2 separate regions of the Homo sapiens genome follow, and region 1 is linked to region 2. The links come from fine-mapping of genetic effects on plasma protein levels. A gene starts in region 2. The other region holds a variant in brackets. All regions are shown on one strand. Distances are between the middles of the regions.

What was found. PIP is the posterior inclusion probability: the model's chance that the variant is causal. Protein levels are from antibody-based Olink assays in UK Biobank. Linkage for the fine-mapping came from a reference panel and not from the study's own genotypes, which makes the PIPs less certain.
Region 1: its variant is fine-mapped to the plasma level of the SEMA7A protein (UK Biobank, PIP above 0.99).

Annotation. Positions count from the first base shown.
Region 1 is chr15:74,392,013-74,407,461 of GRCh38, forward strand. LINC02255 (long intergenic non-protein coding RNA 2255) reads left to right here. Exons shown (of 4, transcript NR_146881.1): 4 at 1,295-2,744. Among named protein-coding and RNA genes, the nearest start is that of MIR6881, 12 kb to the right of the region's middle. RefSeq lists a cis regulatory region at 322-876, enhancers at 4,249-4,318, 4,339-4,408, 4,459-4,808, 4,490-5,689, 4,859-5,058 and 15 more and a silencer at 10,955-11,164. The variant C/A (reference allele first, on the strand shown) is at 8,059.
Region 2 is chr15:74,421,162-74,436,499 of GRCh38, forward strand. It overlaps SEMA7A (semaphorin 7A (JohnMiltonHagen blood group)), which reads right to left and starts at 12,797. Exons shown (of 14, transcript NM_003612.5): 1 at 12,580-12,797. The coding sequence starts at 12,757. RefSeq lists enhancers at 432-1,063, 1,767-2,061, 7,851-7,940, 8,561-8,640, 8,681-8,780 and 1 more and silencers at 11,960-12,079, 12,230-12,379, 12,430-12,939.

The sequences.
Region 1 (15,449 bases), 29 kb before region 2:
CCCTCGGCTCTGGAAAGCACGGTCTCCACCCACTGCCTCCATTAACCCCCTCCTCCCCATCCCCTTAATTCCTGGGATCTAACCCCTGCCCCAACATCCCACCGAGGCCACTGATCACCTCTCTGCTGTTATGTCTGGGGCACTTCACTGCCACCCCTGCCTCCACTCCTCAACACCATTCCAAAGCACAGACCCTTTTTTCTTTCTCTTCTTAAAACATGTGCCCATACTCCTGGCTCCTGAAACGCCCACCCAGATTTCCTGTCACCTCCCTGCCCACTCCATCACTGTCCCCTTCAAGGTTCCACTTCCTCCTCCTGGGGCCACCCTCAAAGAAGCCCCACCCAGGGGTCTGTCCTTGGCCTTTCTCCCCTCCCTTGCCTCCACCCTGGGAGACAGACCTCTCCCACCCCTAGCCTGCCCCTCCTCCTGCATCCTCAAGCCCCCCACCCTCTGGCTATTGAGGTCCAGACCACCTCCAGGATGTCCCTTGAGATGCCCTCCCTTCTCTCTCCCTTGTCCTCAGCCCAGATGCTGAAAGGGGCACCAGCTTTCACCCCTCCTGATTTCATCCAGTCTCAAGCCGTTAGATGCTGTCTGTACTGTCCACACCCAAACAGACGCCTGACTGTCCTCCCTCCCCCAGCCAGGCCTCTCCTCAGCCGCCCACATGACACTCCACTTGGATGTATAACAAGCATCTCAGCCGTTCCAGCTCCCGCTCCCCACAGCACCCCAACCCGCTTCCCCCACCACCGCATTCTCCCCACCCCCGGCTGGCAGCTTTCTCCTTCCTGATGCTCAGACCAAAAGCCTTCGAGGCATCCCAGACCCCTCTCCCTCTCCCATCCACTGGCAAACCCTACTGCTCTAATCTCAAAGGAGACCCAGAGTCAGACTGCCGCCCCCACCCTGGGCCAGGCCCCCATCATTTCTCATCTGGATCATTGCAGGAGCTTCCTAATTGGTCTCCCTGCTCCCACCTTTTCACTCCTGCCCCCAGGTGTTCCCAGCACAGTGGCCAGAGCCGTCCTGTTCAGATATGTCACTGGATCGCACCTCTCCAGTTGACGCTTCCCAATGGCTCCTGTGTCGCTCTCAGGAAAAGCCGGGGAATTATTGCGTGCCCTGGCCTCCTTGCCTGCATCCTCTGCTCTCCTCCCTGCACCCTCCTCTCTCTGGCTGCACTGCAGAGGCCTCCCCTGGGGTATCAGTTGAGGCAGGCTGGGGTGTGCTGTGGTGACCATCCCTACTCACTGGGCCTTAAAACAGAGAGGGGCATTTCTCATTCCAGCTTCACGTCATGAGGGTCAGCAGGGAGGGCTACGCTGCATCGTCCTCTCTCATGACCATGTCGGGGACATCTGGAGCATCACCTGCTTCCAGGCAGGGTGAAGGGAATGTGGAATCACTCGCTGACTCCTGCATGCTTCAGCTCGGAAGTGGCACGCATCTCTTCCACTCGTATCTCACTGGCCAAAGCAGATTACACAGCTGGGCCTAACCCCAAATGGAAGAAGTGTAGCCCTTCCCTGTTTCCAGAAGAAGAGACAGGCACTGATGGACAGGGGTGACAGCCTCCCCGCTGCTGTTCCTCGAACGCGCCAGACACGCCCCAGCCCCGGGCCTTTGCCCTGGCTGTTCCCTCTGCCTGGAGTGCCCTTCCCCAAACACCTGCACAGCTCGCCCCTCACCTTCTTTCAGTCTTTGTTCAAATGTCACCTTCTTGATGACGCTTTCCCTGACCACCTCACTTAAAACTTCAGATGTCTCCTGGACACGGGCTGCCAATCCCCCTTACCTTTACTTTAGCTTTCCACGGTTCTAACAGATTACCTAATTACATATTTCTTATGTCTATTACTATTGTCTGTTTCCATCAGCTAGAAGGAAAGCCCCTTGAGGGCAGGGGCATTTGTTGGTTTTGGTGACTGATGTAAGCCCAGCTCCCAGGACAGTACCTGGCACCCAGTAGGCACTCTATACTTTTGCTGCATGAATGAGTGAATGGATTAGGGGCCCCACTCACCACCAGGTCTCGTTCCCACATCCTTCAGAGCTTTTCAATCTACACTTGAATCCCCAACCCAAACTCGCTGCCTTCCCCAGGCCCTCACTGTTTCTCGTCTGGGTCCCCAACTCATAACAGCCCCTGACTGTCCCCGGTCTCCAGCAATCCCCTTCCAATCCAACACCGCTGTGAAAGGCAGGATAGCAAGGTGATTCTGGCGTGGGCTCAGGGTCCTTTCTCTGGCTCTGCTGTTTACCAGCAGTGTGACTTTGGACTGGTTCCTTAACCTTCCTGTGCTCCAGTTCCACATGTTGTGATAATAGCACTTCTCTCATAGGGGTTACAGTGCTGAGAGGTTTAAATGAGATGCTGCATGCAAAGCACATTATAAATGTGGATTATTGCTTTACACTTGCCAGATCTTGGTACCAGACAAAGGAGATCCGAATCTGCTGAAAACTGTCCCTTGGCTCCTGGTAGTTTTCAGTTTCTTCTCTGCACCCAGGGGCCCTCCCAAGCTGGTCTCCTTCTCACTTGCCTGGTCTGTCCCTTCTTGCTCCCGGTCCCACCAAACTCCCCAGGGCCTCCTGAGCCCGTCATGCTGCCTCCTGCCCTGGCCTGGGCATTGGGTGTTTTCTCTACTCTTCACTGACTTTTACTTGCTTTCTTACTTAACAGAAATCCCAGAGCTTTTTTGCACTTTCATACACAGAAAACTTTCAGATTTTTTTTTCGAGACAGGGTCTCGCTTTGTTGCCCAGGCTGGAGTGCAGTGGTGTGATCTCAGCTCACTGCAACCTCCGCCTCCCAGGTTCAAGCAATTCTCGTGCCTCAGCCTCCCGAGTACCTGGTGCACACCACCACGCCTGGATAATTTTTGTATTTTTAGTAGAGACAGGGTTTTGCCATGTTGGCCAGGCTGGTCTTCAACTCCTGACCTCAAGTAATCTGCCCACCTCAGCCTCCCAAAGCGCTGGGATTACAGGCGTGAGCCACCGCACCCAGTCTCACATTCTTTTTAGAGCTGTCTTGAATTCCATCATGGGGACATACCATTGGGATATATCAGTCCCAAGCTGATGGCTATTAATGTTTTTGATCTTCTGCCATCACAAGTATGCAGCTTGGTGTGTGTGCATCTGTCATATTCGTTCGGGTGTCTCTGTAAGACAGACTCCTGGAAGTGGGATTACTGGGTCAAAGGTAGCTAGTAAAGCACGACGGGCCTTGCCAGCCCAGTGTGCTCCCCACCAGACCCAGGATCTAGCCCCAAGTCTGAGTGATGCAGAATTCACGCCCTCACCTCTGTGCCATCCTGCCTCCTTCAGCAGTAGGGCTGGAGCGCATGGTGAGGGGCCAGTTCTACTTTCTGCCTCAGTCAGGATCGGTCCACTTGAGCGTGATATGTGGGGGCCGAGCCGGGAGGCGTTGGAGCTAGCCGAGGAGATGAGGCCAGCCCCCAAACACTTCCAGAACACTCTGAGCCTTCATGAAGGCTGCAGGAGGGAGCATGGCCTCTTGCCCACATTCTCCCCACCTGGGATCTTCTCTCTGGCGGCTGCCTCTGCCTCCCCATCAGCGCCAGAGCAGGACTGGCAGTGGCACCCCAGGCACCAGTGAGCAGGCTACAGGGTCCGTCCCCACCTAGGGCTGCATGGTCAGACCCCTTGAAGAGGGAATGGCAGAACCTCAAGACCTTGGGTGGAGGGCAGCCCAGGAGAGCCAGCCCCAGGCCATGCCATGGCTCCGTGGCTCATGTGGGCAGCCCCCCACTGGCCCTCACAGAGGCAGAGCTGAGTCAGCAGCCAGGGTCGGGGTGCCTCTGAGGCCCAGGCCTACTTCACTGGGAGGTGTCCCTGCACAGAAGTGAGAGGGCTCAGGAGGGGCCTGGCTCTCTGCCTCTGCTGCTTCAGGAAAAGTCCTGCTCCTTGGCTGAGCCCTCAGGGTCCTTCTCCAGCCCCCTGCCCACCGCCTGCCCTCCGGTCTCCTACACCCCCTCACACTCCAGTCAGTCATGTGGAAATGCTTGCAGTTCTCCACATGGGTTATTCCACTGCCTGCCTCCACGCCTCTGACCACGCAGCTCCTTCTTTTCCAGCTAACTCCCACTTGTCCGCAAAGACAATTCAAGAGTCCCTTGGAGCAGCCTGTTCGCACCTATGCACTCACACAGCACCTTGTTTGTTTAGACCCGCCCAGTGCCTCACAGCAACCCCATCTGGGTTCACTGTCAGAGCTCTGAGCCCACGGGGCTACTCGTCCCAAAGGCATACAGCATGTCCCAACATCTGACTTCGAAGCTGGGACAGGCCTGGCTCCGGGAGGGACAGAGGCTTCTACCTGGGGTAGCTGAGCTGTCCAAAGAAGTTTCAGCCATGTCGAGCCCCTGGCGTTGCCGAAATCCCCCACCCCACGGTGCCACAGCACCAGGGCAGCCCCTAGGAAAAGCCAGCCCCTCAGAGGCCCTGTGCTAAAGACCAGAAATTGCCCCTGGGTCTCCGCAGGAGTTCTGCAATGGGGAAGTGAGCCCTCCTGAGGCCTGGCTGGCAGGAGGCTCTTCAAGGCCAGCATCATGTGGACTTCCCCCAACCACTCGCGTTTCTGCACAGCAGCCACGGAGACCTGGGGGCTGCTGAAAAACGAGATCAGAAGGCAACGTCAGCCTGAGTGGGCTGAAACCTGAGATGAGGAAATGAGAAGACGTCAGGGGGCTGGAGGACATGGGTTTGAGGACAGCCAGCACCCAGCACTGCAGCTGAGGCCTCCTGAGGGAGCCAGAGGGAAAGCAAGTCCCCTCCCTGCGGCCTGAGTCTCTGCCAGTGCCCAGCACTCCCAAAGGATCCACCCCAACCTGAGAGACCCCAAAGACATTGGAGCAGCCCCAGACACCTCCTCCCAGGGCCACAAAGGCCCCTGACAAGCCCACAGCAGTCCAAGGCCTCCAACTGGAGTCATCTTTGGTAAATCTGGGGCCCATCAGCACCCACTGCCCTTCCTGGTGCCCTAAGCATGCTGGCAGGGGGACTGGAAACTGCATCCCAGTTTGCAGTGGGTGTATGTCTCATACACCCACAATACCTGATGTGGGCGTGACTCACCTTGGGGACCTGTGAGTCAATAAGGGTGTATGAGTAAGGGGCAGAGCATTTCAACTTAGTCCCATAGCACATGAGCTCACTAAGCAAACATTACCTATGTCTAGATTTGGGGCCAGTCACTACCCACTGGAGGCTGTGGGCTCCAAGGTATGGCAGCAGGGGAGGCCAGCCAGGCTCTGCCCAGCTTGCCCCTCCTTGTGAGGACGGACCCAGCCAGGCCTCCCGCATCCGCCCTTAGACTGGGGGACCCTGGGTGGGGGTAGAAAGGGGGACTGAAAGTGGTGTCTGGAGTTAAGCCCATCTCCTCATCCCCCACCATGGGGATCAAGATGGGGGCTAAGAGTCACCCCACCACCACCCCAACCCACTCTGAACGCAAAACAGAAGGGGACAAGCAAAACAGAACTGAAACTGGGCAAAGGAGAAACAGGTCTGGGCCCGCCCCAGGGACCTCTGTATCTCACCCCTTACCCATACACATCCTGACCAGGGCCTCTCCCCCAGCCTGGGAAAACCTTTCAAGCTTGGCCCTCTCTCACCTGGGCTCTCTCAGCCTCCTGCCCTCCCCCATCTTCCCTGCTCCCAGCCTCATGCTGCCCCAGGCCTCACCCCATCAGAGCTAAAAGGACCCCAGGCTGGGCATCTGTAGATCAGGGATCTGGTCTCCCTCTGCCACTACCTTTTGGGATGACCTTTGGGAAGTCATTCCCTTCTCTGAGCCACAGTTTCCTCATCTGGCCTGGGCTGTGGGCATAGAATCTGCAGGTGAGGGCTCTAATGGGTGAGTTTCAGGCCAGGCTGAGACTTTTCACATTATAACACTGAGGCACCCAGCACCTTGACTACCACTCATCCTGGGGACTTGGGAAGGGACAGAGGCTGGGATTGGACAGTAACAGCCAAGACCTTCCCAGGGCACAAACGCTGCCTCCCTGAAGCCTGCCCTGACTGTCCATGCAGGTCACTCCCATCACTTCACCTCCTCCTTCCCTCCACTCAGCACCAGCCACCACTGGGTCACATCTATGTCCCTTTGGCTCTGCAAGAGCAGCCTGGACCCCTGCATCCCCTACCCCAGCACAGGCCTGACACCAAGCAGGGGCTCAACAAAATATGTGTTGAAGGCCAGGCACAGTGACTCATGTCTGAAATCTCAGCACTTTGGGAGGCCAAGGCCAACAGATCTCTTGAGTTCAGGAGTTCGAGACCAGCCTCGGTAATGTGGTGAAACCTCATCTCCACAAAAGATACACAAAATTATCTGGGTGTGGTGGCATGCACCTGCAGTCCCAGCTGCGCGGGAGGCTGATGTGGGAGGATTGCTTGAGACCAGGAGACGGAGATTGCAGTGAGCCAAAATTGCACCACTGTATTCCAGCCTGGGTGACAGAGCAAGACCCTGTCTCAATGTCTCTCTCTCTCTCTCTCTCTGTGTGTGTGTGTGTGTGTGTGTGTGTGTGTGTTGAAAGAATAAAGGCAGAGAAAATAACAAGTGTTGGTGAGACTGTGGCAAGATTAGAGCCCTCACACTCTGATGGCGGGGATGTAAAATGGTATCACCTCTGTGGAAAGCAGTTTGTCAGTTGCCCAAAACGTTGAACACAGAGTTACCATGGGATTCTGCAGTCCCACTCCCAGGTAAATAGATGTTCCAAAGAGTTGAAAACATCTGATCACACAAAAACTTGTACACAAATATTCATACAGCGTTATTCTGGATATTATTATAACAGCCGAAAAGTGGGAACAATGTCCATGTCCATCAACTGAGGCACAGATAAGCAACATGGCCTAGCCACACAATGAGCTCTCATTCAGCAGTGAGAAGATGGGGCGTCCTGGTTCAGGCTACCACATGATAACCCCTGAAAACAGTATGCTAAGTGAAAGAAGTCAGACACAAAAGGTGACATGTACAATTCCATTTATATGAAATGCCTAGAAGCTGGATGCAGTGGCTCACGCCTGTAGTCCCAACTATTTGGGAGGCCCAGGCAGGAGGATTACTTGAGCCCAGGAGTTTGAATCCAGCCTGGAAAACATAGCGCGACCTCATCTCTGAATAAATTATTTAATTTAATTTTTTAAAAAATGTCCAGAAGAGACAAATGCATAGAGACAGAAAGTACATTAGTTGGGGGACAAGGAAAGGGGAAGTAACTGCTAACAGGCACGAGGTTTCTTGGGGGTGATGGAATGTTCCAGAGTTAGCTAGAGGTAGGTGTCATAGAGCATTATGAATATACTCAAAACCACTGCAATGTGCATTTTGAAATGGCAAAATTTGTGTTATATGAACCTTTACTCAATAAATACATAAATAAATAAATAATAAATAAATAAATAAATAAATAAATAAATAAAAAGGCAACAACAGCCACCCCAGGGACAGGTTTGGAAAGCCAAACTTGTCTGACTGGCTGGGTGGCTTGTCTATTTGTGTGTTTCTTAAAACAGCATCCTACAGGAGAACTATTCTTTGCTCAGGGAAACCCCCACCCCCTCACTCCACTCCTACCTCGAGACAAGGCCTCTGAGGAGCAGATGGGAGGAGAGGGGCTCTGGGGAAACATAGGGGGCATTGCAGTGGGGTGCTGCCCTCTCCTTGGGCAGGTGCCCCCATGATGAGCAGACTCAAGGTCCAGCTACAGTCCCAGCTCTGGTACAGGTCCTGTCCCTTTCCTCAGTTTCCCCATCTGCAGTCTGCCTCCCGGGGTCTTTCTGAGGTCAGTATGTAGCATGACAGAGCCTGAGAACTGCCAAACTGCCATGTTCTCTCAGAGACCCCTTTTTGGCATGCATTCCAGATGTGGGACCAGAGGTTGGGAAGTTCTTCCTTTGGTCTGACCACAGTATTCCACTTGGAGACAGCAGTGGGAAGAGGCCTTCCACTGAGTCACCCTGACTCAACTTTCATCAGCTTCAGGCCCCCCGTGGGGGTCCTTCCCC[C/A]ACCGGATGCTCACTTTGCTGTAATGGGGCAGGATGTGGGTTCCCTGCTGTGGGAGAGCAGCCCCCACAGCAGCTGCTCCCTAAGATGGTTCTGGCAGGAACCAATGAGAGGAGAAAGCTGATCCTCAACCCCTGCAGGGGCCCTGCAGCCCAAGCAGAGGGCCTCTCAGCCCACCTCGGTCCCAAGTAGGACAGATTGACAGGTGACCTCCCTGTCTCAGAGCCTCAGGGTGTCTTGGAACAAGTGATCCCATCATCTTCCTCTGAGGTCCAAGACTCGGGTGCTAATGGACTCTGTGTAGGGAACCCTGGTCACTGGGGCAGACTCTGTCCCAGACCTGATCTTTGCCATTTTGCCAGAGTGGCCCACCTGACTGCTTCTCTCTGCTGTGTGTATCACTTGTATTAACCGCGAACCCAGCAAAGAGAGCAGGAGCTTGGGCCGGGCACAGTGGCTCACACATGTAATCCCAGCATTCTGGGAGGCTGAAGCAGGTGGATGACTTGAGGTCAGGAGTTTGAGACAAGCCTGGTCAACATGGTGAAACCCCGTATCTACTAAAAATTAAAAAAAAAAAAAAATTAACCAGGCGTGGTGTAATCCCAGCTACTCAAGAGGCTGAGGCAAGAGAATCACTCGAACTCGGGAGGCAGAGGTTGCAGTGAGTCAAGATCGTGCCACCGCACTCCAGCCTAGGCAACAGAACAAGATCCTATCTCAAAAAAAAAAAAAAAAAGTAAAAGTAGAACCCCTGTTTCTTGAGGACAAAGATTAGATGCATCTTTTTGTTGTGAAATTTTGGTAAACTACTTACTCTTTCTCAGCCTCAGTTCTTTGAACTATGAAATGGAGACAATAGTAATAGTATCAACCTCAAAGGGCTGGTGAGAAAACTAACCAAGACAATTCACACAAAGTTTCAGAACAGTCCCGGGCAGGTGCGTGACTTACGCATTTGGCTTTTGTTCACCACTATTACTACTTGCTTATTGAAGCTGAGCCAGGTGGCTGAGCAATGTCCCTTTCTGGCAAGGAGGGTGGAGGCAAGTGTCACATTTCAGAAAGATCCCTGGGCTCCTGTTGAATCTGTCCCCACACCAAAACATGCCCGTGGGGGCTCTAGCTCCTGCCCCAGCAGCGAAAGGGGCTCCTCCTTCTCTGGTGCCCAGTCCTAGCTCACCTGCTCTTCACAAGCCTCCTCCCAGCACAGCCTGCACCACACAGGTGCTCAGTAAGGGGGTTGCTCTGAACAGGGAGCAGGCCCACATGCTGAGAGTGGTGGAGGCGTGCAGGCTCTGATGACCACCTGAACCCAGACTCCAGGGCAGGACAGGTCCTTACAGACCGTAAGGGCTTCCTGCCTACCCTCTTCCCATGCAGTTACCTCAACCCTGGGACACCAGGAAGGTTGAGCATTCCAGGAAAGCCCCGACCCACCCAGGAAACCCAAGTACCTGGTGGGGCCTCATCTGGCCCATTGTCCTGAAAGGACAGGAATAAAGGCTCTCTCCTCATGGCCACACACCCTAGGGACGTCCAGCCTCCAGCTTTCTGTGGGTGGGGCAAATGACTGAGGAGGCTTCCCTCCCTGCAGGCGCCTCCCTCTGGGGCCTCCTGTGGTCCAGTCGTCCCTGGTCCCCAGCTCTCAGGTGGGTCATAGGGCATCTCAGCAGGACCACCAGGAAGAGCATCAGGAGGGGAAGGAGCCAGAGAGCCCTCCAGGCCAGTGCACTGCTAACTCAACATCTCATCTTCCTATCTCGTCCCTTCTGCTCACCTCCGGAGACTCCCCCTCCCCTCTCATGCTCTTCACTGGCAGGTTATGATGGCCCAGAGATCCCCACCAGAGTCCCAGATATCAGTGGGGATCCCAGCCTATTCCTCCAAGCTCCCAGTTGCCAGTGACAGGGAGGCAGAAACAGCCTGGAAATTAACTGTGGGTTCTCCCTGAGCCTGTGGATACATGGAAAGAGAGCTTCACCACCACCCCCTTCTCTGAATATACATACAGGATCTGAGGAGGGAGGATTCTGTGTGGATGCATGTGTGCACAGATGTGCATGTTTGTACGTGTGTATGGGTGAGCAGGTCATACGTGTGGTCCCATGTGCCCACCTGTTGTATATATGCATGCTTGTTTTGTGTAAGTGAGCATAAGAGGTCAAGCCAGAGAGAGAAATAGGAACAAGGAGAGACAGAGAGAGAGAGAATAGAAACAGAGACCAACAGGGAAACAGAATGAGACTGAGACAGAGAACAACAGAAGGCCAGACAGGTAGACAAGCCACAGTTCCATCTTCCCTGGTGCTGGCTGCCAAGGCAGACAACTCTCCTCTCACTTCATTGATGTTCTGCCTGTGTTTATACCCATGATTGGGGTGGAGTTCAGGAAAGGATGTATCAGGGCTAGGACGCCCCCACCTCCACACTCACAGGGCCAGTCAGGGCCCTCTGCAGGGGCTGCCATTTCCTCAAGCTGAGGAATGGGCTTGGATCCCTCGGATGCCTTCCAGGGTGCAGGGGCGCTCCCAGTGACTGGGCTCTTGTGGTGGCTGGGGAGGGGGAGCTCCTCTGACAGGCCCCATGCTGGGGGAAACGTCCTGAGACTGACCTATCACGGGCTGACATGCACACCAAGGAGGTCTCACATCTGCTGGGAAATGAGGGGCTGGTGGAGGTGAGAAAACCTCAAGTTCTAATGCCTTCCCAACACCTTCACCTCACCTGAGAAGCTTCTAGATTCCACCCACCCCTGTTTCCTTGGGGGAGGGTGTTGTGTGGAGGTGGGAAGAGGCAGGAGTCCAGGTTCTAGGCCAGGCTCTGAAGGGGCAGGTAGCTCAGAGCAAGAGGCTGGCCTTGCACCTGCTCTGCCTAATGGGACAGTAATGCCCACGATGGCATTCCGCCTCTGAGGGCTGTGGTGAGGCTGTGGAGAGATGTCAGGGACAAGAAAAGGCCTTGGAAACCAGCTGTGGGAAGAACAGCCCATGAGCTCAGCATTTCCCCTGGCTTCCCCGAAAGCCGGCCCCCAGGAGAGGAAGGTGACTGTGACTTCTGCCGCCACCACTTCCTGCAGCTGGGACCCTGCTCACTCAGAATGTGGAACCGTCATGGGCCAGCAGTGTCACCTGCACACTCACTCCTGCCACCAGGAAACCCTTCTGCAGGGCAGGTCCCCAAGCCCCGTATCTCAGGTTCTGACCAGGATGTGTCCTCAGCAGTGGTCGCCCGACATTGATGGGAGGGACGGGTCCCAGCTGGGCATCAGGATATGGAGGGTTTCATTCCAGCTCTGCCACCAAGGTACTGGTTGCCTCGAGGCATTCCCCTTGCTGGACCTCATTGAGGAGACTTCCTGTATTGCTAAGCAGGCAGGAACCCCAGAAGCTCAGAGCCGGAAGGCACCAGGGCTTCCCACAAGATGTGGAGGACCCAAAACAGGGAGACAGGCCCTGGCACCTAAGCGTTCCTTCTGGGCTCTACACAAGGTGTGGGTGGCACCAGAGCTACTGCAGGCTACTTGATCCAAGGGGCAGTCCTGCTCCACCGTGGGCTGGACGAAGACATCATCTACTCCAGGGCATCCACGCGTGGGGTGGGAGCCAACAGACCTGCGGTGCTGCCTTCCAGCTTGGGACTGGCCCCCGTACTCCATCCCGTGCACCCAGCCCTTCCGGCTCACCCCTTCCATGGCATGTTGTGCTCTCTCGCACCCCATGCTTTGCATGTGCTGGTTTCATTACCTGCAACACCTTCACCCCACTTGTGTCTGGCTAGCGTCCCCTCCAGAATGGAGAGTGGACAAAACATGGGGTCTGGAATTCCAGGGGTCAGGGCCCAGGCTGTTAGGAAAGGCAGAGTGTGAAGCAGACCCTCAGCAGGCCTCACAGCAGGGAGTGCTGAGCTCAGGGTTCTCAGGGGCCAGGATGGGACAGACGCCGAGGAGATGGGGGTCGGTAGCTGGGGCAGATTGTGCAGACAGTCTGGATTGTGGAGGAGCTGCCGGGCGCAGGGCCCCACTTGGCGCGGGCGGCTGTGGGGGAGGCTGAAACTGCAGACTATTTTTAGGCTCCTGCTGAATTGAGAGATGAGGATGCTCTGGGCTACAAGCCCTCATTCGCTGGGGAAAGACTAAGGGGGCCCCAGTTCCCCCGATCTGCCCCCAGAGCTCAAAGTCTCCAGAGCTTCCTCTTTTGTCTCTAGGGACCAAGGGCTGGGGTCAGGAAGTGGACTGGAAGTATCCCCAGCACCCTAGATAGGCAAACACCCACAAGAAGTGATTTCCATACCATTTGCACACTGCCCTGCTTCCTGATCAGAAGGAACGGAAACGTTCCCTTTCAGAAGACCCTCAGCGGAGCAGTGCATTCACCAGAGTCCACTTTCACCTGCCCCACTGGGTATCAGGAGAGTCCCAGGAGAGCGACACAAGCTCTAAAGTCAGAAAGCACAAACGGGGGTTGTTAGCACTGTGGTGTAGCATCCGCTAGGCTCGGGGTAGCAAATAAGTTCCATCTGATCAATTGCTGGTGACTCCTAAGGAGAAATGCTGGTGAGGATCCATTCATTCATTCCACAAATAATTTACTGACCACCTACTGTGTGCTAGGTGCTACTCTAGGTGCTATGAAATTTAGCTGTGAACAAAAAAAGACAAAATTCCCTGCCCCCGCAGAGCAGATATTCCGTAACAGTGTTGTCCAACAGAAATACAATATGAGCCACACACATAATTTAAAATGTTCCAGTAGCCACACTAGATAAAAGTTAAAGAAGACCAGGAGCGGTGGCTCACGCCTGTAATCCCAGCATTTTGGGAGGCCAAGGCGGGCAGATCATTTGAGGTCAGGAGTTGGAGACCAGCCTGGCCAACATGGTGAAACCCCGTCTCTACTGAAAATACAAACATTAGCCGGGCGTGGTGGCGGGCGCCTGTAATCTCAGCTACTCGGGAGGCTGAGGTAGGAGAATCGCTTAACCTGGGAGGCGAAGGTTGTGGTGAGCCAAGGTCCTGCCACTGCACTTCATTCTGTGCTACAGAGCAAGACTCCATCTAAAAAACAAAACAACAACAACAAAAAAAGTTAAAGAAATAGGTGGAATTAATTTTTGTATGTTATCTAGCCAAATATATCTTATATCTGAAATATTATCATTTCTTTTTTTCTTTTTTTTTTGAGACAGAGTTTCATTCTTGTTGCCCAGGCTGGAGTAAAATGGAGCAATCTCAGCTCACTGCAACCTTTGCCTCCCAGGTTCAGGCGATTCTCCTGCCTCAGCCTCCCAAATAACTGGGATTACAGGTACACGCCACCATGCCCACCTAATTTTTGTATTTTTAGTAGAGACAGGGTTTCACCATGTTAGCCAGGCTGGTCTCAAACTCCTGACCTCAGGTGATCTACTGACCTCAGCCTCCCAAAGCTCTGGGATTACAGGTGTGAGCCACCACGCCCAACCTCTAATATTATCATTTCAAAGTGTAATCGATGTAAAAATTTAAGGTCATTTTTTTCATATTATGTTTTCAAAATCCAGTGTGTTGTTTATACTTACAGCACATCTCAATTCAGATGAGCCCTATTTCAAGTGCCCAGTAGCCCCCAGAGAATGCAAGTTCTGAAGAAAATCACTCATATGAGCTCAGGAAAGGAATGCCACAATTGATCAGCAATGCCTGCTCCAGGCATAGGCTACAGCTGAATCAAGCTGCAAGCCATGTGTTTCCCCACCATGATATAGGCTCAGCCCCAAAGGACGTGTTCACCTCTACCTAAGCCCTTCTGAGCTCATTTATTTTGCCCAACTTGAAAGAACTGCCAGAGTTCTGGGACCTTGACTTGGTTCGAGTGCAGCGGTTCTGGTGTGAACACCACCCTACAGAAACGCCCCAGCATACTAACAGGGCCAGCGCCTCCCGAGTGTGGTTCTGTGCTCCTTCCCTTGGTGGGGGCTGACTCATGGCCATTGGTGACCCTGAGAATGTGGATTTTGTTTTTGTTTTTCTCCCAAGGTCTCTTCCTCCCAGAGTTAACCAATATTGAGATAAAAGTGTTTCCGAGCCAGATTTAGCCATTTCAGCCCCATTCCACTGGCCCAAGCCTACAGACCTCCTGTCTGGCACTGTAGCCAGGATGGCTGCACTTTCTTTTCCAGTAAGCAGAAGGCTAAAATTGGACCATTTAAGGAGCTAGAAACACCTGGAAATGGTGAGGAGTGGGTCTTTGGTGTAAGAGATGGGGTGTAAGAAAACACGGATCTCAGGCTCCCATTATCCTCACCATTATTATCATTATCATCTACCCCACCCCTGCTCAAAATCCTTCAATTGCTCCCTAGTGTCTGCAGGATAAAGATCTTGCTTTAGTTCCCAGGATCGGGAACTGCTGGAGTCATCCAGTCTCACCTCTAGATACTCTCCCTTCTCTCATCTTATTCATTCATTCAGTAAGAATGTCCTGAGCACCTAATATGTGCCAGGCACTGTTCTAGGTACTAGAGATACAGCTGTGAACAAAACTGCCAAGGATTTCTGGCTTCATGGAGCTCACTTTACTCCAGCGAGCCCATAACACCCCAGGCCCTCTCACACTCCCAGGCCTTTGTAAATGCTGTTCCCTCTCCATTCAGTCACTCTCCTCCTGGGGAACTTCTACACATCCTCTAAGGCCCTACTCAAAGCCTTCCCTGAGCACTCCGCTCAATGGGTTAGGTTCCTCCTCTGAGCTCCCACCTCCCACCTAGGACCGTCACACGTATGGTCACTGTCCAGCCCACAGCCCTTCCCTACCAGGCTTTAAGTGTCTCCAGGGCAGGGGCTGTGCCTTCTCCCCCAGGGACCCCAGAGCTTGCTTCCAGGTGCACCCTCCCAAAGATCAGGAGTGAACAGGCTGAGGCATTAGTGTAGGGGGGATCCAGGATTCCTCTGGAGAATTCCATGTCATTCTGAAATCTTTGCCTGGGAGCATCTTCCTCCTGGCATTCCAGGGGAGGGAATCACAGGAGCAAATGCAGAGCGGTTCCAGCAAAGGAAGGTAGAAGTCTGAGGAGAGATGGGAAGGGTATGATTTGATGTAGCAGAGAGACAAGAGGACAGCAGCCTTCCCTCGGGGAGAGAGGATGACAGGACATGTGGATGGGGGATAAACCGTAATGACTCTACATTCCTAAAGTGGGAGGGAGGCAGAACGAAATCTGCAGTTCCCTGCTGCCTTCCCCAGGAGAGCTGAGCTTTCAGTCTCGTCCCTCTTCCTCCTCCCCAACGAGAATGCACAAGAGAGGGGAGAAGGATGGGCCTGGTTCCTGCCCCTGGCCTGGCTCTGGTCCCTGGCCTGGCCCTCAAGAAGCCAGTGCTGGGACTGTGGATATCGTGTGGTTATGGCTAGAGCAG
Region 2 (15,338 bases):
AGACATGACTGGGTCCTGGAGAGCAAGGTCTGAGGGGGAGGTCTGGCCCTACCCTGGGAATACATCTGAGGGGTCAGACAGCCACACCACAGAAAACTTCCACAGCTCTCCAGCAAAACTGTCTTAGCATGGACCCCAGGGCTGCCCACAAAGTATCTGCTGAAGACATGAAGGGAGGGTGAGGGCTGCTGGCCCCTGGGTAGGAGCTGCAGCACTAGGGCCCGGACAATCCCATGCGGATCTGCAAGCCTGAGCCCAGTTCCCTTCAAACCCTAGCCACAATGGCTAGGGTGGAGGAAGCAGGGACTGTTCGTCCCATTTTGCAGGAAAACGAACAGGAGCCCAGGACCACGGCCTCCCATGACCCCCAGGTTCCTGGCCCTCCCACCTCTGTTCTTGGTGATGCGTATGGACTAGAGGGAATGACACCAGCTCAGCCCCAGGACAAGGCCTTGGCCCATTCTCCACCCCAGCCCCAGCCTGGGCTCCCGCACCGCCTGAGGCCCTCAAAAGGCCTGATTGTGCCCGGGAAGTGTCGAGCAGCAGCAGCTCGATGAATACATGAAAGGAAGCTTTGTTCAGGTTGGCAGGAGCGGGGGCTGGGGGCTAAGGGGCAGGAGGGCTGCCTGGAAGTGAAGGCAGCACCAAGCCATCAGGGCCAGGCCTCGAGTCTCTGCCCAGGCAGGGGCTGAGCAAGGCCAGGGGCTACCCCTAAAAAGGCCAGGCCAAGGGAGTATGTATCATATCCCTGAACATTTTCTTTGTGATGCTTTATGAACCCAAACGGAGAGGTGAGGTAGATAAAAGCTGGATGGGCCCTGAACAGGCCGGGAGGGAAAGCCAGGCAGAGGACGCAACCTGAGCAAAGGTGGGGAAGGTGGCTGTATGGAGGACAGAGGCCATGCGCTGCAGCCTGGCAGAGTCCTAATGAGAAGAATCGGGAAGGTGAGCTGAGGCCCACGTGTGATGGGGGAGGGAAGATGCAGCCTGTCCAAGGACACACTGACCCACTGCCCACCACTCTCCCCTGCTGCCTGAACCTACGAGCAGGGCCAGGAGTGGAAAATGCCTCCCCATCCTCTGGCGTCCCCCACCTCCTGGCTCCCCCTGCTTCCCATCCTGCTTGTCTAAAAGGAGCACCGTCTGGCACCGTGTCCCCCCCTCACTCCCCAGCCTGACGCATTAGTGGCTAAGTGGTAGCTAAAAGCTCCCAGAATAACCAGGGGCTCAGGTAGGGGAGGGGGCTAGGGACATATGGGGAGGGCATAGCCCAGAGGCAGGCCAGGAACAAGACAACCCACCTCCCGCCCCATGTGATTCCGAGCCAATCCTCACTCGTGCTGGACCAAGAAAGCACATTCAGGCTGCCCCGTACCCAGCCGGACTCCATAGTTCCCCTGAGTACCATTTCTCATGGTGGCAGGGCCAGCAAGGCCCAGCTCCGGCCAGATAGGAGGGCTGCAAGGATGGCTGGGTTGTAGGAGATAACCTCCACCAGACACAGCCGCAGGGCCGGGTGCTCACAGGGCTCTGATCCCATTGGAAAGAATGGGGCCTGACTCCTTAGGGACCCTACCCTCGATCACCACCCCAGCAGCTGACCGACTGTGGCAAGTCTGGGCCTCTGGCATGCATTTCCTAACTCAGGCCTGCCTGGTGGAGCACGTTTCCTCTTCTCATTCACTCTGGTGCTGTCACCGTCTGGCCCGCTGTCCCCATACTCTTGTTGTTTGTGAAAGAGGAGTGCAGCTCCAGGGGAGGGCAGAGTGGGAGGTGTTGTTGTCCATGAAGGGGCTGGGTCCCATGCTCTGGTCTGGCAAAGCCAGCCTTGCAACCTGACCCACTGACCCAGTGGGCCTTGAATGTAACCTCAAGGAGCCTTTTGAAAGTGGGCAGAGAGTCAGGCTCTGAAAATGGCAGGAATGTGGGCACCCCCACAGAGAATGCCTAAGTCAGGCAGTCAGAGAGGCCCCGGGCCAAAGAGCAGAAAGCAGGCCGACCTCAGGTTGGAGAGCCAGCACATCTGGCAGGAGCGTCCTCCCACAGTTGTGCCCCCACCCCTGCACTGCCAGGCCTACCTCACACCCTCGCCCAACTACGTGTCTGGAAAAGAGAGTAGAGGGAAGGCCCACGTGATGCCTAGGAATTAGCCTGCAGCCTCTCCACCCTTTGGAATCCCACATCCACATGTCAAGGTGGAAGGGAGAGGATCTAAACAGTCATTGAACTGAAGGACACAGAGGCCAGAGAGGCTGTACCACCGGCCCAAGGACACAGAGCGAGGGAAGCTCCAAGTTTCCAGTACCCATTACCCAGCTGCTTCTCTCCAGGATCACATCCTGGGCTTCCTGGAGAGCCTCTGATTTGCAAAAAGCTGTATATTCAGCCTCTCCCTACTTCCCTGAATCATCCCTACTCTACCCTTCCCTCTCTTGCTCACTAGGTGCCGAGTCACTAACCTGATAACTAAAGGGAATCACCCGCCCACCCACCTTCCAGGTGAGGCCCTGATCTCCTAGGGGCCTTTAGTGATCAAAGCCTTAAATCCAAAGGAGTGACTAATGGTGGAAGTGTAGGTGCCGTGCATGTCAGAGTGGTAGAGGAAACCCTTCCACTAGGGGTGGGAATACAGGAACAAATGTTTCTGTCTCTCCTGATATGGCCAGGAAGAGGGTGTGAGAAGCCTGGTTTCCAGGGTGGCACCGGCTCGGTGCTAAGGATAGGTCATGGTTGCAGGTGGGTCCTGGCAACTCTCAGGCAGGGTTAGGTTCTAGATTAGCTAGTCGCCTGGCAGGGGCAGAGCCTGTGTGCTGGGGCAGGTGGTGGGGCCTCGAGACAGCACTCAGCTCATGGAGGACTGAGAAGTCTAACTTGTTTATGAGCTATGAGAAGAGCGAGCTGTGTGCTGGGCCAAAGGGGAGCATCCTCCCACCCACCAAGGTCAGCTGTGGGTGGGAGGGGAGTATATCTCATGTGTGGCTCAGCCCTGGCTCCAAGAAGCCTCATTATCTCTTTGGTGGCTGGACAGCTGGCTGGCTGTGACGGTGATTGGGGCTGGGCCTTCCTGGGTTCATTTTCCTCCCTGTGGATTAGCTGGGTGCGAGTCAGGGTGGGTGCTGGTACTTGTTTGGGCCTGGGTTTTATGACCCACCAGGATTCTTGAAACAAATCACAAAACAATCAGGGTGAAGTCCATGGGTCTTTTTGGGAAAGTGTGACTCTCTGAGTGCCAGAGAAGTCAGACAGTTTTCTGGAAGTGGAGGCAGCAGAAGAAACTGACATTCTCATCTGCTTCCACTGACCAGCCCACCAAACCTCCAGCCACCCTGCAAAGAAGGCAGGACAACCTGTATTGCCGTTTTACAAACAGGAAAACTAATGCCCTTCCAAGCCACCAAGGTCTGGATGCTCTCCCCATGGCACCACTGTGCTCAAAGGACCAGAAGAAGGTTTGGCTATTGGGGAGACTGTCTGGGGCAAAGTCCTAGGGAGAAGGGACAGTGTGGAAAGCAAGCCCCTTGGTGAGAGGCTGTGCTGAGCAGGATTCAGGGACTCAGGGAAGGAAGGCTGGCACTGAGGCCCAGCTGGAGTGGGTAAGATGCCCTGAGCCCACGCCCAGGGAAGGCCGGAAGCCCAGGACAAACATCATGTCCCATCTACCTTCCAGCTGTTCTCCAGCCCAGCAGGTTCCAAAAGCCCCAGAGTGGGGCCGAAGTCGCTGGTGGCTCCTTCAAAGCAGACAAAGGGTAGCGGTGCAGGGCCTGCCCTTGGGCCCACAGCCAGGGCAGGGGTCGGGGAGAGGGCGGAGAATGGCTACACAACCCCAAGTGGAGGGAGGGAGGCAGGTGGAAGACTGCTGAGAAACAGAAGGTTCCCCAGTCTTAGCCTTAGCCTGAACCAGCAGGGGAGACTGAGCAAGGGCAGCCAGCCAGCAAAGCCCATTAGGGAGAACTGGCAGGGGCTGGGCTGCCAGGGCTGCATTCCATCAGAAACCAGAGATGCCAGAGGAGGAGGAGGAAGATGATGACGACGATGATGATGCCCCTACCACCCAACCCTTCCATCGCATTTACTACGTGCCAAACACTATTCCAAATGATTTTTAGATATATTAACTCATTTAATCATCACTGAACTCTCATGAAGTAGGTTCTTTTATTATCCCCATTTTGCAGATGAGGACCATGAGACACAGAGAAGCTGAGTAACTTACCCAGCATTACACAGCTAGTAAGGGGTGGAGCAGAGGTTCATACTCAGGCAAGCTGACTCCAGAATCTGTGCTTATAACATCGTATTCCAGAGATGAGCCCTTGGAGGCTTCCAAGGTCAGCCCTTCCCAGACAGATGAGGAGACCAAAGCCTACCGAGGGTGAGGCCCAGTTAGAGGCTACTTGGCTAATGAAGTCCTGACCTCTGCCCGTAACACCCTGAAGACAGTGTGTGCAAGTGAGCACAGGTGTGCAGGCCCAGGTGAATGTAGTGAATTCCTATGCTTTGATGTTGCCCTGGCATCCGTTTTGAATATAAGCTGGGTTTTCTCACACTAGAAGCAGGGCTCAGTCAACCTTGACACCGTTTCCAGCTCCCCACCTCCTCCCAGTTCCTCCATGTGCTCAATCCAGATATCTACCGTAGACAGTCGTCTCCTGGTGACTGCTTCCCTGTGGGATGGCTACATACAGCCCACTTGATTGGTCCTGCTGACCTTGTCCCACAGCCCGCATGGACTGTGCAGATAGGCCAGTGACCTTGTCTCAAGTCACAACATGACCTCCTGGAACTCATGACTGCTTGCTGTAAACCCACCAATTAAAACTCCCCATGGAGGCCAGGCACAGTGGGTCATGCCCATAATCCCGGCGCTTTGGGAGGCTGAGGTGGGCAGATCATTTGAGGTCAGGAGTTCGAGACTAGCCTGGCCAACATGGTGAAACCCCATCTCTACCAAAAATACAAAAAAATTAGCCAGACATGGTGGTGTGCGCCTGTACTCCCAGCTACTTGGGAGGCTGAGACAGAAGAATCGCTTGAACCCAGGAGGCAGAGGTTATAGTGAGCTGAGACCACGCCACTGCACTCCAGCCTGGGTGACAGAGCAAGACTCCATCTCAAAACAACAACAACAACAAAACAAACTCCCTGTGGAAAACTTGTTTTAATAACACCATGGACCCCATAAAGATGCTGGCCCATAGATCCCCCCACCCTGCACATGCTCCCTGACCTCCACCTGTGTGTGGCTTCAGGTACACCAGGTATCCCTCAAGACCTGTTAGTAACAAAATCTTTATTTCCACCTGCCTCTCTCTTAATCATGGAAGAGGTGCTCTCCATCTTAAAGATCCTAAGTTACAACAGTGGGGCAGGAATCTTCTCGAGGTGCAGCGTGGGGCCCCGGTCCTGAGTGACTGATTAGAAAGACAAGTCTCCCAAGATCTCGCTCAGAACATAAAGTACTCTGTGGGGCCGGGTGCCATGGCTCATGCCTGTTATCCCAGCACTTCGGGAGACCAAGGCAGAAGGATCACATGTGTTCAGGAGTTAGAGGCTGCAGAGAGCTATGAATGCACCACTGTACTCCAGCCTGGGAGACAGTGAGATCCTGTCTCTAAGAAAAAAAGTACTGCATGCTCTGAAGCTGACCACAGTGAAGGGCAGAGTGTGCTCACCAGCCAGGTCCCCACTCAGCCAGCCCTGGCGAAAACACTCACCTCCACTCCTCAGCTCAAGGACCCACCATGGCTCCTAACTGCCCATCCAAGCAGGGCCCAAAACCTCAGGGCAGGGCAGTCAAGGCCCACCTCATCTCTGCACAGCTCTGCCATGGCTCATTTCCATCTCTGCACTTTGCTCCTGTTCTCCCCTCCCTGGATTGACCTTCCTCCTTTTCTCTGTGCACATGGATCTTACCTGTCCTTGAAAATGTAGCTAAATCCCTTGGATCCAGGAAGTATTCCAGACTGCTCCAGCCCTCACTGCCCGTACCTTCGACCTTGTACCACAAACCATCTGGCACCACCATCTTCGCTCAGATCATGCTGTCTGATGGGATTTCATCTGGCCTATGGGGCCCTGAAGGTGAGGACCAGGCTTCCTCTTGCTCCAAGTCTTCCATTCCCAGGGAGCAGCTCAGACAGTGGAGAGAAGCAAGACTGGGGCAGGCCAAACTCCCATGCCAGAGGGACAGGTATCTTAGAACAGATTCCTGGGCCACCAATGGAGTGCAGAAGTCATCACAGTGACCTTCCTTCCTCGACAGGCTGGGCCAGAGCTCCTGCCTCAGCCTCCCAAGTAGCTGGGATTACAGGCGTGTGCCACCACACCCAGCTAATTTTTTTGTATTTTTAGTAAAGACGGGGTTTCACCATGTTGGCCAGGCTGGTCTCGAACTCCTGACCTCAACTGATCTGCCTACCTTGGCCTCCCAAAGTGCTGGGATTACAGGCGTGAGACTCTGTACAAACAACAATATGAATAGCTGTCTATGCTGCACTCTGCCCCCACCCTATGCTCCTGCCCCTAGCTCTAGCCTGGCTCCTCCTCCTCCCCCAGGAAGCCTTCCTTGATTGCACCATCCCACACTGACCTTTCCTGCTCTCACCTCCTGTCACAGTCCTAGGCTACATCTGCAGGTCATTCCTGACCTCCCCAGGGGTCCGCCCTACTTCACAGGCAGAAGACTCACCTCTCCAGGAATGTGGGGGCTCCCCAAGGGCAAACCCAGGGCTTCTCTTCCTGCCTCTCCCCCAGAGGAGCCGAACACAGACCTAGGCTGGCTGCCCTCCATGATGAGGGGTCACCCAGGGGTGCTGGCACAGAGCCCAAGCCTCTGGCTGGAAGCATGGGGTGCAGAAGGCATGGCAGGATCAGCATAATCCCAGGCTGTCATGACAGTTAAAACCTGATTAGCCCGAGCCGGGACACAGATCAACCTGTCCTTGGGACCTGAGGCCCAACCCACCTGAGGAAAGACCAGAAGAGGTATATGGAGCTGGTCCAAATCCAAGGTCCTGAAGAGAGGACACTCACAGCTGGTGTGGCTCCTGGGAACAGACAGCACTGGGGCGGGAAGAGTCTGGGCCCAACTGGGCTAGCAGAGGAGGAAAGGCACTGAAGGGGCCCCCAGCCTGGGACAGAGTATGATGGCAGACAGAAAGCTGGAAACAGGCTGAGAGCTGGGGCAGAAGCAGGCTCAGACGACTCAGCCCCGGTCCCAGCTCTGCCTCTTTGGGTGATCTCGGGCCAGTCCCTGTCATCTCTGAGCCTCAGTTTCCCCATCTGTGGAATGTTTGGCTGGCCCAGCTAATCTCTGACATTTCTTTTCTGACATCCTAAGCTCGCGCTGTCAGGCTGTGTGGGTTGGGGTCATCCAAGAAGGTTCCTCAGAGGAACTGAGAAAGAACCAGCAGCCTCCTTTCTGGGCAGAAAGGAGGAGGAGGGTGAGTGGGGTGCAGAGAGGAGGCGGAGCCAGGGAGCAGTGAGGGAAGAACTGTGGGAGTCTAGGAGGCAGTGGGGCCAGGCCACCATGCAGGGCCTGGGGAAGGCGGCAGCTGTGTGCCATGTGTTCTGGATGGGGTGCAGCATAGGGACAGAGGTCCTCCGGGAGGCTGGGCACAGATCTGGAGAGATGGCAAGGCCAGGGCCAGGGAGAATAAAGGGCTTGGAGAGCCACCCCATACCATTCGGGGCAGAGAGGGGACAGTCCCTCAAGGCCTGGCTGGCTAGGGAAGGGGGAACTCTGTCCTCTGAGGAGGCAGGGCCCAACAAGGTGCCGTGGCCCTCCATCCCCCTGCTTTCTTTCTGGCCTGCCTGGTTCCCTGAGGACAGGACAGCTGGCCATACACCTGGTGGCTGGCCCTCCCTGCAAGGGTACGGAACCCTGGCTCTTCTGAAGGCAGGACAGGTTAAGGGCCCCTTCCTCCCCCAACCATGGCGAAGGAAGGCTCCTGGGGCAGCCACGCTGGGCCAAAAAAGGAAATCAAGAGAAGTGGAAACTTTTCAGTCCAGAGCTGCCGACCAAAGCAGGGGAAGTGCAGTCAGTCTCTTGTGACAGAGCCGTGTGAAGCTGGGGGTGGACAGGCTATCAGCTAGTGGCCCATCTACTCCAGCTACTGCCCCCTGAGGGCTGCCAGACCTGCCCCCTGGGCTGAGCTTCACATCCCACCTTGCTTGGCCCTCCTCAAAAAACAGAGCCCAGCTTTCCCTGCTTCCCCCAGGGCGCCACCCTCAGCCCAGATAGTGACCTATCCATGCCACCCCCACCCTGCCACCTCCATGCTCCTTCCATCTCTGCAGAGGAAGAGCAGGAGAAGACAGAGCTGAGGGACAGACCTTCTCACCTGGAGACTGTCCTGCGGTCAGGAGTCAATGGGGAAAGCCATGGTCTCCCTGGACCCAGAGCCAGCCTCCCACCAGGGAACTGTGACGGGGCTATGGCCTTGCCAGCACTCGAGAGGCCTTCCCTGCCTGCCACGGCCCTTCTCCAGTGGGTGCGTCCTTCCTCCTCACTGCTGCGCCAGTCATAGGATGACAGGTATCCCCTCACCTATGCCCATCTGGACAAGTTTCAAACTTTTCGGGAGCCCCCAGGCCCAGGCTGACTCAACGCCTCTTCACATGGGGGCCCCTCACATGGCTTCTCTCCTCTCTGTGGTCCTAGCTGTAAGTTCTTGGGTTTAAAATCCTACTAAGTGGGGTGCTTCCTCCTGTTCCTTCCCTCCCCCAGCTGGCTCCTCCTCCTGCCATTTCAGCTTGCTCCCTCTTCCAGGAAGCCCTCCCTGATTGGGAAAATTGGGTTAGGCATCTCCTCAGTGCCCATAACTGCTCTCTGTTACACATTCTGTTGTACCTGCAGGTTTATCTGCCCATCTACATCTACACTGAGAAGTCTACAAGGGCACGGAATCATCTTGTTCCTCATCACCAGATCCCCAAGCTCATCCCCAAGACCAGCACAAGGGTGGCCCCGGCAAATGTTTGCTGAATGAATATGTCCACCCTTGAGGGCACATGCTGATGATCCATTTCCTCCAAATGATCCTCAGCCTTTGGCCCACGAGAGAAAAAGATAGGAAAGAACGCGAACTTAAGGGTTTCCCCTGACTTCCCAGGTTTCAATTTCTCCTCCAGATTTCTCGAAATCTAAGATTTAAACAGGCCACCACAGACTCTGCCCAGCCCCTCCCATCCCAGAGAGAGAGAAATCCTAAGACATTAAATCTCAGAAAAGGATGAGCCCCCTCCCCTACCCTCTTTGGGCATTTGGGGAAACTGGGGTTCAGTAAAAGGCAAAGACTTGCCCAGTCACAGAGCAAATTAGGTCACAGCCTGAACCAGGCTCCCGACCTCCCAGCTCTCTCCCCTATACCATGGTCATCATTGGACCTGTGCCAGCGTCCATTCCACCGGACCTGCTCTCAGAATCTTCACTGTCCAGGACAGAGGGGTCACAGAGCTTGGTAGGAAGCTCCTGGTGACCTCACCAAGCATCTCTCTTGGCTTAGGAAACTCCCCCTCTCCTCCGGGGAATTGCCCCCCCACCATGAGACTCTGTGGAGGGAGTTCACCTTGAAGGTGATGAACACATCTAAGTCCCCAAGGGGGCAAGGATTTCCACTGGAAATGCTGATGCTTGGGAAGCCCCAGATGTGACCTCATCCCCTGGAGGAGGTAACAACAACCTCCTGCCCTGGGGAGCAGCCCCAGAATGGCTCCCCAGCAGCCACCAAGTCAACAATAACATCCCGTTGTTTCACTGGACAAAAGCGAGGGAGGGCAGAACCAGCCGGGCAGGTTGAGACTGGGGATATGGGTTCTGTTTCCCCATGGACAGGCTGGTTCACCTCTGACCTTGGGGTTCCAAGCCTTCTTTAGCTCCTCCAACCACTGATAAAATGGAAGAGGGGTGCACAGCTTACAAACGCATGCCAACCTCCTGCTAAGCCCCAGCCCTCACCTGCAATCTACTCCCTTACAGTTCCTGCTTACAGGAAGATCAGGACCACACATGCACATCCTTGACTGGCCCATGTGTCAGTGACAGCCCTTGGGGGACAATCCCTACAGCCTTTCTTGCTCTGGCAGGCTCTAAGGGTCAAAGACAAGTGTGGAGCTCAAGGACACCCAGCAGGTACATGATGGCCCATCTCTCTCCCTGGCCTGAGCTACGCTGTGCCAGACTTTCATCAAGCTGCAGAGGCAGCAATCTCCCTGATCAGTGCAGGCTGGGCCCCTCTCAGAGTTCCCTGCTTTAATCTTTCTCTAGAACTTGGGGATCCAAGCAGCAGAAAATAAAGAACTTTCCATACCTATTCCAGTCCCCACAGCTGTCCTGACTCAAAACTAAAACCCCCATCTATGCCTCATAGAGAAATGGCTCCAGAACCACCACCATCCCTGATTTTGTCATTCCTGGATACCACCATACTCCCACCCACCACTGGTAGACAGAGCTCTAGGCTTCCAGAAAGACCCCCTCTTACCCTGTTCCTGGGTTTGTCCTACCCAAGCCCATTCCTGTCCGATTGCCATGTGTCACCCCACAGGAGACAGGAGGCAGCTGTCAGTCGGGCACACCATCACCAGCTGGTGGCCCTGGGGGTGGGGGGCAGGTGAATGGCAGGGCCTGTCTGGCCAGTGGGGCACCTGGCACTGGTGAAGGAGACCACAGACTGTCGTTGGACAAGACTGGTGAACGGTTGGCAGACCCCAGCCAGCGGGGCTCAACAGTGCATTACTAAGCAGAGGGCACAGCCAGTGTGGCTACAGCAGTGAACTGCGGGCGGGGGGGTAGGCCATGGAGCTGTGCTGGGAGCTTCGAAAAGTGGGTAAGAGGACTGAAAGCAACTTTAAATAGCCTCAGGGTGGGAACTAAGTGCCCAGGATGGGATGTATGCATTAAGTGCTAAGAAGTGGGTGTGCATTAAGTGGGGTGGGGGTGGGGGGTCATGGGAAGACTTTGGGACAGGCAAACAGAGTCAAAATGCAAGGGGTTTGATGGAGGGAAAGATTCCAGAACACTCAGATGTGGCCATTTGTCCCCTCCAGAGTGCCCACACGCTATGATGTCCAAGACAGCCAAGGAGACTGAGGGAAGGCAAAGCTGCTGGGAGGGCAAAGGAAGCTTGGGCTGGAGCTGGGATGGCAGAGGGGTGTGCAGGCCTCCTCCATGTACAGGCGGCCGGAGCTCTAGCAGCACTGCTCGGCTTCCTCCAGGAGCACCTCAGGCTGGGTAGCCGAGCTGGTCCCCAGAGCACCTCATTCATGGTCCCTGAACCACCTAAATCCTTCTCCCCTCCCTAACCCAGAACCTGGACTGGTCCTGTGCCAGATCAGAGCCCCTGCCTGCACCTGGGCTCCCACACTGCTCAGTGACCTTGGGCAAGTCACATTCCCTCAGCTACTGCGGCAGTTCGGGCCACTCGTTTTGTGTATGGTTTTTTTTCCCCTCTGCTAATAATACCTGCCCCAGATAATGCTCAGACTCCCGCAATCCCTGCAAACTGCCAAAGGCATCAAAAGGCTCCCGGTGGGGCCAGACCCGACCAGTTCCCCCAGCCCCCACTGCGAGTCCCCCACCATCACGACAGGGGGGCCGCAGACACGCCAAATTTGGGGACAGAGCCGAATCGGACTGGGGGCGGGGAGGCATTTGTGTGCAATGCAGGGGAGGGGAGATCAGTTCCTCGCGGCAGAAAGCCTCAAACCCCCGCCTAACCGGCTTTCTGTCCCATAGTACAGGGTCTAAACTGAGGTGCCCTGGGGGAGACTCCAGTCCCCCAGGTTCTTATTATCTACCCTGGCCTAAAGGCTGCACCCCCGCCCTAGATCCACCGCCTGGGGGTCCCAACGGCCGTGCCCCACCCAACGGGCACTGCCCCCCAACGCTGGAGCCGATTTCTGGTGACAACTGCCACGTGCGGGCAAGGGGGGAGCGGCCGGTCCCGGCATTGCTGAGGCAGCGCCCTGGTACCCCAAGCCGCCGCACCGCACCATGTCCCGCCGCTCGCTGCAGGATGCCCACCCCCTTGCCTGGCCCGAGCTCCGGGCCGGGGCGGGGGCGGGGGCAGGCGGCGGGGTCTTTGTTCCCGCTGCCGAAGCGCGGCGGCGGCGGCAAGGGGTCCGCGCCCCCCTTGCCGGCCCAGCCTGCGCCCCGCGCGCCAGCAGAGCCCGCAGCTCAAAAGGAGGGTACCCGGGTTGGGGTCCCAGGCGGGGAAAGGTCCTCCGCCGAAGCCCCCGAGCCAGAGGACCCAGAGTGGCTCGGGGCCGAGAGAGGGGCCCGCCCCCTCCCCTGGCGCCCGGGCGTTGCGGCTCCTGGCTGCCAGGGACTTGGTGCGACTTAGCCGGGGCTCCGGCCCCCGCCGCTCGCTCGCCGCAGCGTTACAGCCGGCTCTGGTGTGCCAGCGTGTACACTCACACACACTCACCCAAACCCACACGCTCCACGCGGGGACAGCGCGGGGACAGCCCGGGACCCGCAGAGCTGCGCGCACGCACTCCCTCCGGGTGCAGCACACTCCGCACCCGCCCCGCGCAGCGTCTGATCCCGCGCCTGACCGGCCGCGCGGCGCCGCCTACCTTTCCAGACGGCGAAGATGCGGGGTCCGCTCCTTAGGTGGCCCTGGGCGGAGGCGGCGGCCGCCCAGAGCAGCAGCAGCAGCCGCAGCCGCAGCGGAAGCCCCAACCGAGCCGGCGGGCCAGGGACGCGGGCGCGCGGTGCGCTGGGGGCGGCACGTCCGGGCGGAGGAGGCGTCATCCCGTGGCCCCGGGAGCGACAGCGGCAATCAGCCGAGACTGAGCCAGCGCCCGGCCGCAGGCAGACCCAAGCGCCAGGAGGCGGAGCCAGCGCTGACCCCACCCCGCCCCTCCCCCCGCCCCTCGCAGCCTTTTCTCGCCTCACTGGCTTTCCTGAGCGAGAGCGGAACTGCTGGGGGAACCTTCGCCACCCTCTCCCGGGCAACTCTACGGGGAAAGCCCAGCTGCGGACAAGCCAGACTTGTGGTCTTCTGCCAGGGGCGGCAGGCCCTATCCCCTCTCTGGGCCTCAGTTCCACTCCCCGCACCCCGTAAAAAGATTGGCGTAGAAGTCGTGGAGGACCTCTCTCCAAGGGCGCAGAGGAGTCCAACACCCAACAACCTTGCTATGGCCAGCTAAGTGGTTCGCACCCTGAGGACTATGGTCCTCGGAGGATGCGTTCGCCTAAGTGGACACGGCTCCCTGCTGAGCCTACCAGCAGGCACAACGATGATATGTGGGGAGCACTCAGGGACCCGCTGTTGCTTTGCCTGGGAGAACACTGGAAATTTTTCATCTTGGCCTGGCTCCTTCCCCTCCCTCTCCTTTCTCCTCCCTTTCCCAGCCAGCAGCCTTCTGGGCTGCCTCCCCCCAAGCCAGCTGGTGTACGCTCAGAAAATCCAAACTCATTTCCATGTGAGTGGAGGGGGATATAATTAGGAAGGCCCCTTCCCCAAGTAGAGAGGGGAGCATCCCCCGTGCCCCACTCACTGTGGGGGAGGGAGGGTCAAAGCAGCTTAAGGGGATCTCTGCCCGCAAAGTGCCTAGGGCTCAGCTATCTCAGGCAACCTGACCATTCAGTGGGGACTCCCTTGGGGGGTCCAGGCCCAGACCCTCTGCAGTTACCTGAGCAGTCCAGCCAGCTCTGCCATCAGCTCCTCCTCTCAGAACTACGTGCCTGCCCTTTGTAAAAGGGTCTCCTCTCTCTAGACCAGACAGGGCCCAGACCTACCACTTCCACTTGTGCCCCAGGGAACCATGAATGGAAAATCCACCCAGCTCAGTAAGTACTTATCTAGTGTTTACTGGATGTCTAGCTGCACTGAGAGGAGACAGGCCGAGGAAGGAGTAGAGGTGAACATCCAACCTTCAGAACTCACAGACCTAGACACGATTCACGCACTGCAGACACCAGCAAAGGCGGTGGGCTGGCTGCCCTCTGCCCTCTGCCCTGCTCCATGGGGCCAGGACCATTTGGTTGTTGTTTTTACCTCCTGGAACCAGGAAAGTTTTGCTACCAAGAAGTTTGGCTTTACCATTCTACATTTTGCTTCCAGTTGTCCCCTCCTTCTTCCCTCAGAGTCCTGAGGCACCCCAGCAGGCCAGGAAGGTAAACTCAAGGTACCTCCAGAGACAGTGCAGAGTGAGGTTCCTGGCCCACTGGGTGAAGCCAACAGCCTCCTGATACACAGGGGCACACTGCCCCAGAGAGGGAGGCTGTGGACAGTCTAAGAGCTCCTCCTCAGGCCTGCACCTAAGCCTGTGGCCCTGAAGCCAGCAGTGGAGCCTGGCCCAGGCCAGCCTCTAAGATGGACATTCGGTTTCACCTGCTAGACAGGTATTGCCCTCAGTGTCTGTCCTCTCTATGCAAAGCTAGGGCAAACTAAGAAATCACCTGTCTCTGCCTTTTGGAACTAAGAATTCAAATGGATTCAAAATCAATGATAACACTGCCCATGTGCATGGCAACTCACAACACATAACCCACATTCACCTACCTCATCTCTGCCAGTCCTCCACTCTCTTCCTCTCACTGAGGGAGGGAGCGTAACTCCACTGCAGAGAAGAAAACTGAGGTACAGGGAGGGACAAGGACGGACCTGCCCGAGGTCAACCGGTAAATGGTAGAACGAAGATGGGTTTTCTGACTGCAATAACAATTGCTAACACTGTGGTTCCTATGTGCTGTGCCATCTCATAGCCTCTCCCAACTCATTCAATCTTCGCACTCCTATGAGATAGGAGCTATTAGTCACCTCCCTTTACAAATGAAGAAATCAAGGCACAGACAAGGGATGTGAAGTGCCAGGATCGCACAACTAGAGGCAGGACGGATTGAAACTCAGGTGGTTTCTCAAGGACCCACACCCTTGACTTCTCTCTGTGTGATGTACCCTGGCACTGCTGCCTCCTGTCTGTGGCTGAAGTCTGGGTCCAAACCATCCCCAGAAGGACCTAGATAGGGCCCAGGTCACCAGGTGCTGAGTAGGAGGGCAGACCAGGGAATGGGCTCAATCTCCCAATCAACAGAGTAGCAGATGGAAACTGGGGTAGATGCCAGATAATTTTTTTTCCAGACTGGGGGGTAGGGGGGAAGGAAGTAGTACTTAAGACCATCCTCCCCACAAGCCAGCCAACCTGGGGACAAAGGGCCAGGCGAGATGGCAGCCCACTCTCTCGGTTGGCTGCAGGCAGCCAGGGGAGGAGAGAACTAAGCCCATGACTTGAGGCAATAACTTTATAAAGGGAAAGGCAGCTAGACTGTGGGGCAGGCACTATGACCAGAGTTTAGGCATGGACTTTCCTGCCTCAGGCAGCATAGG